Homo sapiens: one gene and its partners. The protein of the gene in region 2 purifies or fractionates together with the protein of the main gene of each other region. This does not show direct contact. Each region holds a gene or a part of one and is shown on either strand. Other genes may lie near its edges. The genes, in order: RTN1, RETREG1 and RTN3.

Region 1 (3,657 bases), on a different chromosome or scaffold from region 2:
CCCTGCCTATCTGTCCAATGGTGTTCTCTGCCCCACTTCCCTCTTCCTCCCCTGTGTCACCAACCCCCTTTCAGTTCTCATATAATACAGACTCAGGCCCTGTGCATTTGCTATTCCCCCACACCTGAGGTCCCTCCTAGCTTCTCTCTGAACTGTGGGCTCCTTCTGCTCATTCAGATTTCAGTTCATGTGTCATCTCCTCAGAGGGGCAGTCCTTGGACCCCTCACACCCAACCCTCTATCACTCTTTCTAGTGCTCACACTATAAAATTACACTGTTTATTTATGGGTTTGTTTTTTATTGCCTGTTTCCTCTGACTAGCAGGTAAGCTGTGCAAGGGCAGGGACCTTGTACATCTTATTTACTACAAGGTCTCAGTGGCCAGTGCATGTCTGATGTATAGAAGTCACTCTAAATATTTTTTGAACAAAAGAATGAATTTTAAAAATGGGTAGGAGAATCATAGATCCCATCAATGCAAGGAAATAGCAATGGTAGTTTTCAAATTTAAGTTGATTTACTTTTAATTGCTCATTTCTTCTTGAGGGAAACTGGGGTGTTTTAAGGATGACTTCCTGATTATTGTCCTTTTTGAGGCTAATAGCTCACATAACACCCAGGACCATCATAATATCCCTCTTGGTGTTTGTGTCAGAAACAACATGGTGCTCCTGGTCAATGTCTGGGGCATCAGGGCATTTATTATGTTTTCCTAAATTGCTTCACTTTTTTCATGACTGATCTTGGCTTAAAAGAGACTTCCAGTATTTCAGCTATAACAATTCTCACCTCTCCACCTCAGTGTATATTATGTAGTAAAAATAGGTAAGTATGTTGGAGAACGTTACAAAATGGAATAATCTATTGGAATTGGGAGAAATATAAATATATTAGACACCTTGCTTAAACATCAGCATCTGTGGCTAAAGCTAACCCAAATTAGAATTTCTCTTCAGTTATTCTCCAGATTTGATGATTTCCTTATTTATTAAACAATGATAAACTGGACCCTTTTTTGCTTAACATGCTTTCTTTTTCCTCAGTTTCTATGTAGAATTATGTGCAGTTCTCAATTTTTGTTTTCAATCTGTTGTCACTGGAAATGGCAGAGTGACCCAAGACTCAACAGATGTAATAAAGTCCATATCCTCTACTGTCTATGGGCACAGTGTCACATGGTGCCAGGGGTCATAAGAAGATGGGAAGGGGGTCAGAAACCTCGCAGGATAAAAAGGGCAGGGAGAAAGGCTTCAATGAGAAGCTGATTCTTCCTGTTAATTTCATTCTTATCTGTTGTCATATGACTCTGGTATTTTGATGTGGGATGTATATGGAGAGAGGAGCTGAACATAGGAGAGAATGTGTAATGGGCCATTTTCTCTTTCCTGAATATGCCTTGCTTAGAATGTTTATTTGATTGCAGCTGCAGAGACAATCATTGTCCTAACCCCATACTGTCAAGTGGGCAACCCAACATCGTAAAACTCCAATATCATGTGAGCCAGATCTGCCTTTGTTTTCTCTTGAACCTTCTCCAGAACCCAATTGGGCCATGGCTACTTAAAAATGGAAATTCCCTAAAAATTAATGGACCCTTTGTCAAGTCTTTGCAAACTGTAATTTTTACATGAAGCATGTGCCGTGTAAGTAGACCTATACTTGCTAGGGCATTTCACTATTCCTGAGGACTGGCTGAAGTTCTTGTGGACTGACTACTGGACAACCCGGGAGCTCTGTAAAACACAGCTTGACTATATTAACTTACATCTTCAGAACACCAAGTATCTTTACGGCAGGAAATAATAAAAGAGTTTTACTATGCATTGCCAGAAAGAGTACAAGGAAGCTTGGAAACTCGGATATGTTCTGACCTCATGTTTTAGGCAGGGGCAAGACGTATCTAATCCACCTGGAGCCTTGGTTTTCTGATTTGTCATTACTACCCAAATCTCAATTTACATCTTAAGTGAAGTTCACTGGGCCCTCACAACTCCATGTCCATGCAGCTCCTCAGACTGGAAGGGCACCCTTCCCTTCACCTCTTTGTTTCCCCTGTTCCTCTGAGAGTCACCTGTGGTCCCAGTTCACCTGGGGAGCTGCTGGACTCCAGGGCTCGTCAGCACCGTACAATTCCCTTTCTCAGGACACCAAGCACACTGGATTGGGACTGCTTCCTTGGTCGTCTGGTCCCCTGGAGGCAGGGACTGGTTTTTGTTTGTTTTTTATTTTTCGTTAATTCCCCATCAGTCGTGCCTCATAGAGTACCCAACCAAAAGAAAGTATGTAGAAAGTGTTTGTTGCGTGAATGAGTAAATTTGAAAATCAGGGACCTGGCGCAGTGAATCTTTAAGACCCTTGGAGTTCTATGGTTGAATGAGTCTGAAGGAACTTTGGGGAGAAGGAATTAATGCTAAAATCTATAGGGAAAGAAGATAGGAGGAACTTTCATTAATTCTGTTCTATTCCAACACTTGGATTTGTACTATACCATCAGGGTTTAGAGCAATCGCTCCTCCTCTACAGGCTTTGCTTCCATTTTCAGAGTTTACTAGAAGCTCTTTCACCTGAGGTGCATACCAAAGCTCTTTGGGATATGGTAGAATGCCAGTCACCAGGGGCAGGGGAAGGTTTGAGGACCTCTCACTGTCCTCTTCATCTCGATGCCTCATGGACATTTGAGAGAGGTGGAGATGCAAAGGCTGGAGAGAAGAGAGTGGCACAGGGTGGGGTGAGGAGTTTCCTGCTGCCTCTCTGGCCTTTAGCCAGGGATATAAGAGGCTCCCTTTGTGTTTGACAGAATACGCATGAGTGCTGTTTAGTATCCTGCCTTCAGTCACAGAAAGAGAATGTTCAAGTTAAAAAAGACCATAGCCTAATGAAGTCTAAACTTTAAAAATTTTAATGAAGTACATCTTTTGGTTTCAAAAATAAAATTATATGCAGAACTTCAATAAACTAGAGATATAAAATGACAGTGTTGAGATTGAAAGGGGAAGGGAGGAGTTTGCTTTGCTTAGGTTTCCTCTTCCTGTCTGTGCCATCCCTAAAAGATCCAGAAGTCCACCTTTTCCTTCCCTTTAAGTGTACAGACTTAGAGCTAGGGACAGGAATGTTAAATGCCCCGGCCAAGGTGCTTCAGGCAGTCTACAGAGAACAGCCAGTGTGCTCTCCTCATAATGTCTCCAAGAGACCTGTGCTATAGTTTGAATGTCCCTTCCAAAACTCATGTTTAATCTTAATACCCAATGTGGCAGTATTGAGAGGTGGAGCCTTTGAGAGGCTATGGACTACGAAATATTGAACGATGAAGGCTCTGCCTTCATGAGTGGATTATCCCACTCATGGATTAATGGATTAAAGAGTTAACGGATTAATGGATTATCATGGAAATGTGACTTGTGGCTTTATATGAAGAATAAGAGAGACTTGAGCATAGCATGTTAGCATGTTCAGCCCCCTCACCATATTATACCCTGTACCCACTTGGGACCCTTCAGAGAGTCCCCACTAGCAAGCCAGAAAGCTTTTACCAGATGCGCCCCTTTGACCTGGGACTTCCCAGCTTTCAGAACTGTTAAGAAATAAATTTTGTTTCTTATACATTACCCTGTGTCAGGTATTCTGTTATAAGCAACACAAAACAGACTAAGACAACC
Region 2 (3,657 bases):
TTTTGTCTCCTGGTCTGTAGTGTGTGCACATTTTTTACGATCTTGGGAAGTTACATTCCTGGGGTTATACTCAGCTATCTACTGTGTAAGTATAGTAGAACATATGGCTAAGTGTTGTGATGCATATGGTATCACCTTACGGTCAACAGACCTGTAGTTTGAAGAGGGGGGATGAGTTCTTAACTATAATACAAGTTGATTATTCTTTAATCTCCTGCTGTACAAAGTTTCTCCATTTTCCTAGAGACATGTCTCTATTTTAAAATTGGAAGAATAGCTGCAAAAGGCAGAATTATAAGTGAATAATTTTATGTTAAATTTTGTCAGTAAAAGTATACATAAAGCTGTATGCCCCACCTCCCAAAAACACACCAACACCTTTGCCTTCGTGCGTGTTCTTTGGCTCAAAAAAATAATTAAAACCACAATGAAATACCATTGCATCCCTACCAGAATGGCTAAAATTAAAAATACTGACCACATCAAGTATTAGGAGGGATGCAGAGCAAGTGGAATTCTCACATACTGTTGCGGGGTAGGTAGAATGTTAAAATCACTTTGGATAACAGTTTGGCAGTTTCTTAAAAACTACTACATGACAAAGCTATCCCACAACTAGGTACTTACCCAAAAGAAATGAAAGTACAAAGACATAAATGTTCATAACAGATTTATATGTAGTAGCCAAAAGCAGAATATAATCCATACATCCATCAATTGGAGGAATGGGTAAGCAAACTGTGGTATATCCATATAATGGATTACTACTTAGCACTAAAAATGGATACATACAACACTAAAGATAAATCTCAAAATAATTAGACTGAGTAGACAAAACCAGATGAAAAAGTGTGATTCCATTTATATATTATTCCAGAAAATTCAAACAATCTTTAGTGACAAAGCAGGTCAGTGGTTGCCTGGGGATGAGGTGGGTGGGGGCAGGGAGAAGAGGCAGGAGACTGGAAGGAAGGTTGAATAAAACCATGAGAAAACTTCATGTCTACTGGTAGACATGTTCACTATCTTGATTATGGTGATGGCTTCTTAGTTGTATGCATATGTCAAAATTTATCAAATTGTACACTTTAAATACATGTATTTTATTATACATCAATGACCACCCAAAAATGTTATTAAAAAGTATGGATTTTCTTCACCTGAAAACTATGATCTGGCACTGCTACCTTTCGATGGGGCAGGCACTCTCCACTTAACATACCCCCATATTTTCCAATTTTTCTTACAATGGACTTTAAAATTTACATACAATTTCTTGGCCTCTAGAGACATTTGAGTTTGTAGCTCTTATTTTAAAATATAATACGGGACACTTCCTAAAACGAACAAAGAAATAAATATTGGGAATACAATACTTAGAGTGTGGCAATCTTTGCTTCTTTTTGTATTCTTAATGCATAATGCAAATGGCAAATGGTCAGAGCTCAAATCCATTCTCCCCAAAAGAAGTCATATATAACATCAGCCTCATGATGACATTGTTTAGGAGGTAAAGGAGAAGAGGACTGGGGAATGAAAGAATAATTTGGGCAAGGCATTATTCAGATGGTTTGCATTGATTTCATTTATGCTTCACAACAACCCCAAGAAATAATGTTACTATCCTAATATTATTGATGAGAGGCTAATAACTTTCCCATGGTGAAATGGCATTGAATAAACACAGTTAAACCAGGACTGTTGTCTGGAAGGCATGTAATTTTTCTATAAATTTTGAGAATAAAAGGATTGAAAGGAGGGAGTTGATCTAACTGCACCTGGAAACAATGACTGTGAGCATTGTGTAAGTGTGGGTATGCATGTGTGTGTTTGTGGGTGGTGGTAGAAAATGTTTACCTTACAGAAAAAGAATAGAAATTATAAACTTGTGTAAGTGTGGGATGCATGTGTGTGTTTGTGGGTGGTGGCAGAAAATGTTTACCTTACAGAAAAAGAATAGAAATTATAAACTTATTTCACAATGGCATTTCCCTTAAAAAAACTTAAGTTTTTCAGTAAAGAAATGTAGTATTTTGTGAAATACTGAAATGTACGTAGCCTTTTGAAAGGAAAGGCATTTTACCTCTGCTCTCTTTCTTCTTTCAGTACTGTGTGCATTTTTGTGTCCATTGTTTAAATGTAATGATATTGGACAAAAAATTTACAGCAAAATTAAGTCAGTTCTGCTGAAACTGGATTTTGGAATTGGAGAATATATTAATCAGAAGAAACGTGAGAGATCTGGTAGGTAAAGTTTATATTTTAGATTCTATGCATGAAATGAGACATTAGCGAGCTATTTTTAGGAAATTCTTTAATACATTTGAGGATACTTTTAGCTTTTTACTAAATATTATTATAGAAGCTAATCTCCCTCAAAGTTATATATATCCTTTTCCTATTTGGGCTTTCCTTCTTTTCTCAAATATACAATTAAATAAATTGACTTTTTAATCCACAGTGTCAGGGGAGAAAGAAAAGGCTTCAACACTCTTTATTGTGCTACTTATGATTTACTTAGTTTTATTTTGGGTTGGACTATCACAAAGAAAAAGAAAATACAGGAAAAGCCAATATAATCATCTCTTACTTTTTAACTTGGCTTATGACCTTATAGGTTCTCAAACTAGAATGTATCGGAGTCACGTGGAGGGCTTATTAAAGGACAGATTGCTAGGCCCCAGCCCAGAGTTTCTGATTCAGTAGGTCTAGGGTAGGGCCTGAGAATCTGCATTTCTAAAAAGTTCCCAGGGAGGATGCTTTTGCTGTTTCAGGGACAATATTAAGAGAGCCACTAATGTGGATCATTTCCTTTGCAAATATGTGAAGCTTGTTATGTGCAAACATTTAATTATATTTGTAGTTAAGAATATGAGAAATATATATTTGTATTTGGAGAATATGAGAAATGTGGGGTAAGAATACATAATGAAATAAATGCACTATGTCTGAGTTGGCTAGGAAACTGAAAGCTTCCAAATTTTTTCCTCAACAGAAGCAGACAAAGAAAAAAGTCACAAAGATGACAGTGAATTAGACTTTTCAGCTCTTTGTCCTAAGGTATTTTTTGTTTAGTTTTCAATTTGTTCCTGTGTGGTTTGACTGTAAATGCATGTATGCATACAAAGCTGAATGATCTTCCTAATAAACTCCTCATATTTCTGTAAGATGACTGAATGATTTCAAAATAAAAATATCCATTTGGTTTTTATTACTCTGTCATTTTGGGGGTTCATATGGATTTTTCAAAATATTCCCTTCAGCAGTTTAAAATGTGCCGCTGGTATTTATTTATATTAACACAGATTAGCCTCACGGTTGCTGCCAAAGAGTTATCTGTGTCTGACACAGACGTCTCAGAGGTATCCTGGACTGATAATGGGACCTTCAACCTTTCAGAAGGATACACTCCACAGACAGACACTTCTGATGGTATGCTAATATTTCTGGAGACATTTATTTTTATGAGTGCATACAAAACTATTGAACTTCTGTCAAATACTGAATGGGTAAATAACATGTTACCACCATATCTACACAGTAGAATATTACTTGGCTATAAAAATGAAGTCCTGATACTTGCTACAACATGGATGAACCTTGAAAACATGCTAAGAAGCCAGACACAAAATGCCACATACTGTGTAATTCCATTTA
Region 3 (3,657 bases), on a different chromosome or scaffold from region 2:
TGATGCAGTCAGAAGATTTATCGGTCTGTTGTTTCACTTGGGGAACCAGATCCCAAGTCAGTATTTCGTTAGTAAAGTTATGCATATCATTCACGCATCTGGACACCTCTTCCAGTGCTGCATTTGTGTGTGAAAACTGCCTACTGAGCAATGCAGACATTGGGTAACGTCCTGCCTCTTTATTTCTCAGTGGAAAAAGCTTGTCATTAGTCTCTGAAATGTCTTCGGATGATTCTTTATCAGTGTGCACAGACCAGCTACCAAAATCATCTGTGCTCTCCTTATATGAGTCTTTAAATTCTTTGTCAAATGCTGCTTTGTCAATAATTACTTCAAATGGTGATTCAGGGGAATCCTTTTCAATAACATCATCTCCTGAAACTTTGGATGGAGACAAAGAATATGTATAAATGCCTTCTACCTTAGAGTACTCAGTAGGTGGTTTCTGGGCTGTCAGCAAAGTGAATCTGTCATCAGCATCCAATGCAGTTTTAGCCTCCCTACTTGATACCCCATTTGGGTTCTTGGTCTCTTTATCTATTTGCTCTTCCACTTGACCAATTTTCTTTGAGAGAAAAGCAGGATGCTCTGGGAAACTGGCTGGAATAGAAGGACGGTCACAATGAACTCCTGCTGCAAGAGAAACTGAAGAGTCTGATACGTTGTTGCTGGTCCCCTGAGGCTTTTCCATCTTTTTCATATCTAGAAGATCCAAGTGGTCTTTTCCTTCTTTGGCTAAAATAGGCTGGCTCCCTAACACATGGCTTTTTTCTCCATGTAGTATTGTAAGGCCAGTGTTATGTATTTCAGAAGATGAAAGAAAGGAAGAAGTCATAATTTCTGAAGATGGCTCATCAGAGCAAAGAGAGCTCAATCCCTCTATGATCAGAATTTCAAAGAAAAAAATTGTTTACCAGGTACAATTACACATTAGCTAGCCAAGCCAAGCAGCATGCTTTTTATTTTTTAAATTACATAAATATATATATACACACACAGGATGTATATATACACACATAAATATGTAACAAAACGATCAAGTTATCCTACAGGACATGCATAAAACTGCCAACAGTGAAACAGAAAAGCCATATCATGCCACAAACTGCAAATGATAAAAAATTTTCATGACAAATACTTTTGGTCTACTTTTCCATTGTACAGAGAAAGCATAAAGAAGGGCGGTAAGATTGAGAAATCTTGGGAGGTTTTTTATTCTTTGATAGAGCTAATCAACAAAAGCAAAATAATTTATACAAAACAAATAACCTGATACTATAAAGGGTTGATAGACTTCAATCTGTAAGCTGAACAATTCAGAGCACAGACTGCCTCTATAAATCTGTTAGTCTCACAATCTGAAAAGGAAAAAAACTAGTGGCCAGACTTTTTTGATTTTTAGGAGATGCAATGGGCCCTTCCTGAATCTGAAAAATGAGACTAGAATTATTCTATTCTATCCACAGGGAGAATCTGTCCCATGTACAAATAAATAGCTGTGATGTTCTAAACTAAAGGGTACTGAAAAAGGTGGACCCCCTCCAAAATCTTTTTTTTTTTTTTTTGATACGGAGTCTTTTTCTTGTTGCCCAGGCTGAAGTGCAATGGCGCAATCTCAGCTCACTGCAACCTCCACCTCCCAGGTTCAAGCCATTCTCCTGCCTCAGCCTCTCAAGTAGCTGGGATTACAGGCAGGCACCATCAAGCCCAGCTAATTTTTGTATTTTTAGAAGAGATGGGGTTTCACCATGTTGGCCAGGCTGGTCTCTTAACTCCTGACCTCAAGTGATCCACCCGCCTTGGCCTCCCAAAGTGCTGGGATTACAGGTGTGAGCCGCTACGCCTGGCCCCTCCAAAATCTCTTGTACTAACTTGTCATTTAAATCAATATTGTACTGTGCAAATTGATTTCTTTGGTTAAGACAGAGTTAACTTGGCTGGGTGCAGTGGCTCACCTGAGGTCAGGAGTTCGAGACCAGCCTGACCAAAATGGTGAAACCTCATCTCTACTAAAGATACAAAAAAATTAGCCGGGCGTGGTGGCAGGCACCTGTAATTCCAGCTACTCGGGAGGCTGAGGCAGGAGAATCCTTTGAACCCAGGAGGCAGACATTGATGGCAGTGAGCTGAGGTCACGCCATCGCACCCCAGCCTGGGCAACAAGAGTGAAACTGTCTCAAAAAAAAAAAAAAAAAAAAAAAAAAAGACAGAGTTAACTCCAGAATTACTTTTAAAATAGAAAATATCCTTCTCAAAGTAATACGTTAAGTCTTATCAGTTAATACCATAGTAGCCATCAATCTACCACACTGTTTTCTAACTTCCCACTCTAACAAATTTTTACTGGGGAAAAGGATCAAAACAAATATCCCAAGGGCTGGTGCTTTCTTACTTCATTTATTTGTTTGTTTGTATTTGAGAGAGGGTCTCCCTCTGTCCTCCAGGCTGGAGTGCCAGTGGTACAATTGTGGCTCACTGCAGCCTTGACCTCCTGGCCTCAAGCTATCCTCCCACCTCAGCCTCCCAAGTAGCTGGGACCACAGGCACATGCCACCACACCTGGCTAATTTTTAAACTTTCTTTTCTTTTTTTTTTTTTTTTGTTTTTTTTTTGAGACGGAGTCTTGCTCTGTCGCCCAGGCTGGAGTGTAGTGGCGCGATCTCTGCTCACTGCAAGCTCCGCCTCCCGGGTTCGCGCCATTCTCCTGCCTCAGTCTCCCAAGCAGTTGGGACTACAGGCACCCGCCGCCACGCCTGGCTAATTTTATTTTTGTATTTTTAGTAGAGACGGGGTTTCACCGTGTTAGCCAGAATGGTCTCGATCTCCTGACCCCGTGATCCGCCTGCCTCGGCCTCCCAAAGAGCTGGGAATACACGCATGAGCCACCGCGCCTGGCCTGATTTTTAAACTTTCTACAGACCTGGTGCCTCACTACATTGCCAGGTTGGTCTCAAACTACTGGGCTCAAGCAACCTGCCCACCTCGGCCTCCTGAAGTGCTGGGATTATAGGCATGAGCCACCACGCCCACCCTGGGCGCTGTCTTTCTTGCATACTGTTGTATCTTTGGAGCTGGGACAAAGTGGGTCTTAAATAAATAGCCCCAAATAAGTGAATCAAAGATTCAGCTTGGTCAGCTGAGACCTAAGTAGGCTCAGGACAGCAATGCCTTGAGCATGAATGAGTAACTGGGAAAATGTGACAGAGAAGTTCTTTTGGGATTACCTTTATTCAGCTTATGTTCCCTTTTTCATGTAAACATCCAAATACCAGATAAAAGCAAAATTATGACTTCATTCAAAATTATTTTATTAAAGACAAAAATATTTTACAATAAATAAAATTCCAGTATTATGAAAATGTTTTGAAATGCCATATAAAGTTCCCCTACTTCAACACATCACTGAAACTTGATGTAATAAGAGCTGAGCTTTAGAAATAGTATAACTGTAATCTGGTTATTAGAATAAAAAGTCTTTGTACATTCAAGGAAAACTGTAAAAGCTTGGTGGCAAAGCTATATTACCAAAACAAAACACTTGAAGTAAACTGTAATTCATATGTAGTTCTAATTTAGTAAACATGGTTTGCATCTACCATTATACAGTATGGATATTCAGCATGACTAGATTAGGGCATAACAGAAATGAAGCCCAGT

What was found.
Region 1: the proteins of RETREG1 (region 2) and RTN1 purify together in Homo sapiens (affinity purification with mass spectrometry, with the first as the bait; one study listed by BioGRID). This does not show direct contact.
Region 3: the proteins of RETREG1 (region 2) and RTN3 purify together in Homo sapiens (affinity purification with mass spectrometry, with the first as the bait; one study listed by BioGRID). This does not show direct contact.

The regions. Positions count from the first base shown.
Region 1 is NC_000014.9:59,741,682-59,745,338, forward strand, and holds part of RTN1 (reticulon-1), read right to left. Parts: intron 1-3,657. UniProt on the Homo sapiens protein: Inhibits amyloid precursor protein processing, probably by blocking BACE1 activity.
Region 2 is NC_000005.10:16,477,437-16,481,093, reverse strand, and holds part of RETREG1 (reticulophagy regulator 1), read left to right. Parts: coding exon 1-85; intron 86-2,106; coding exon 2,107-2,244; intron 2,245-2,995; coding exon 2,996-3,060; intron 3,061-3,305; coding exon 3,306-3,432; intron 3,433-3,657. UniProt on the Homo sapiens protein: Endoplasmic reticulum (ER)-anchored autophagy regulator which mediates ER delivery into lysosomes through sequestration into autophagosomes.
Region 3 is NC_000011.10:63,715,924-63,719,580, reverse strand, and holds part of RTN3 (reticulon-3), read right to left. Parts: intron 880-3,657; coding exon 1-879. UniProt on the Homo sapiens protein: May be involved in membrane trafficking in the early secretory pathway. Inhibits BACE1 activity and amyloid precursor protein processing. May induce caspase-8 cascade and apoptosis.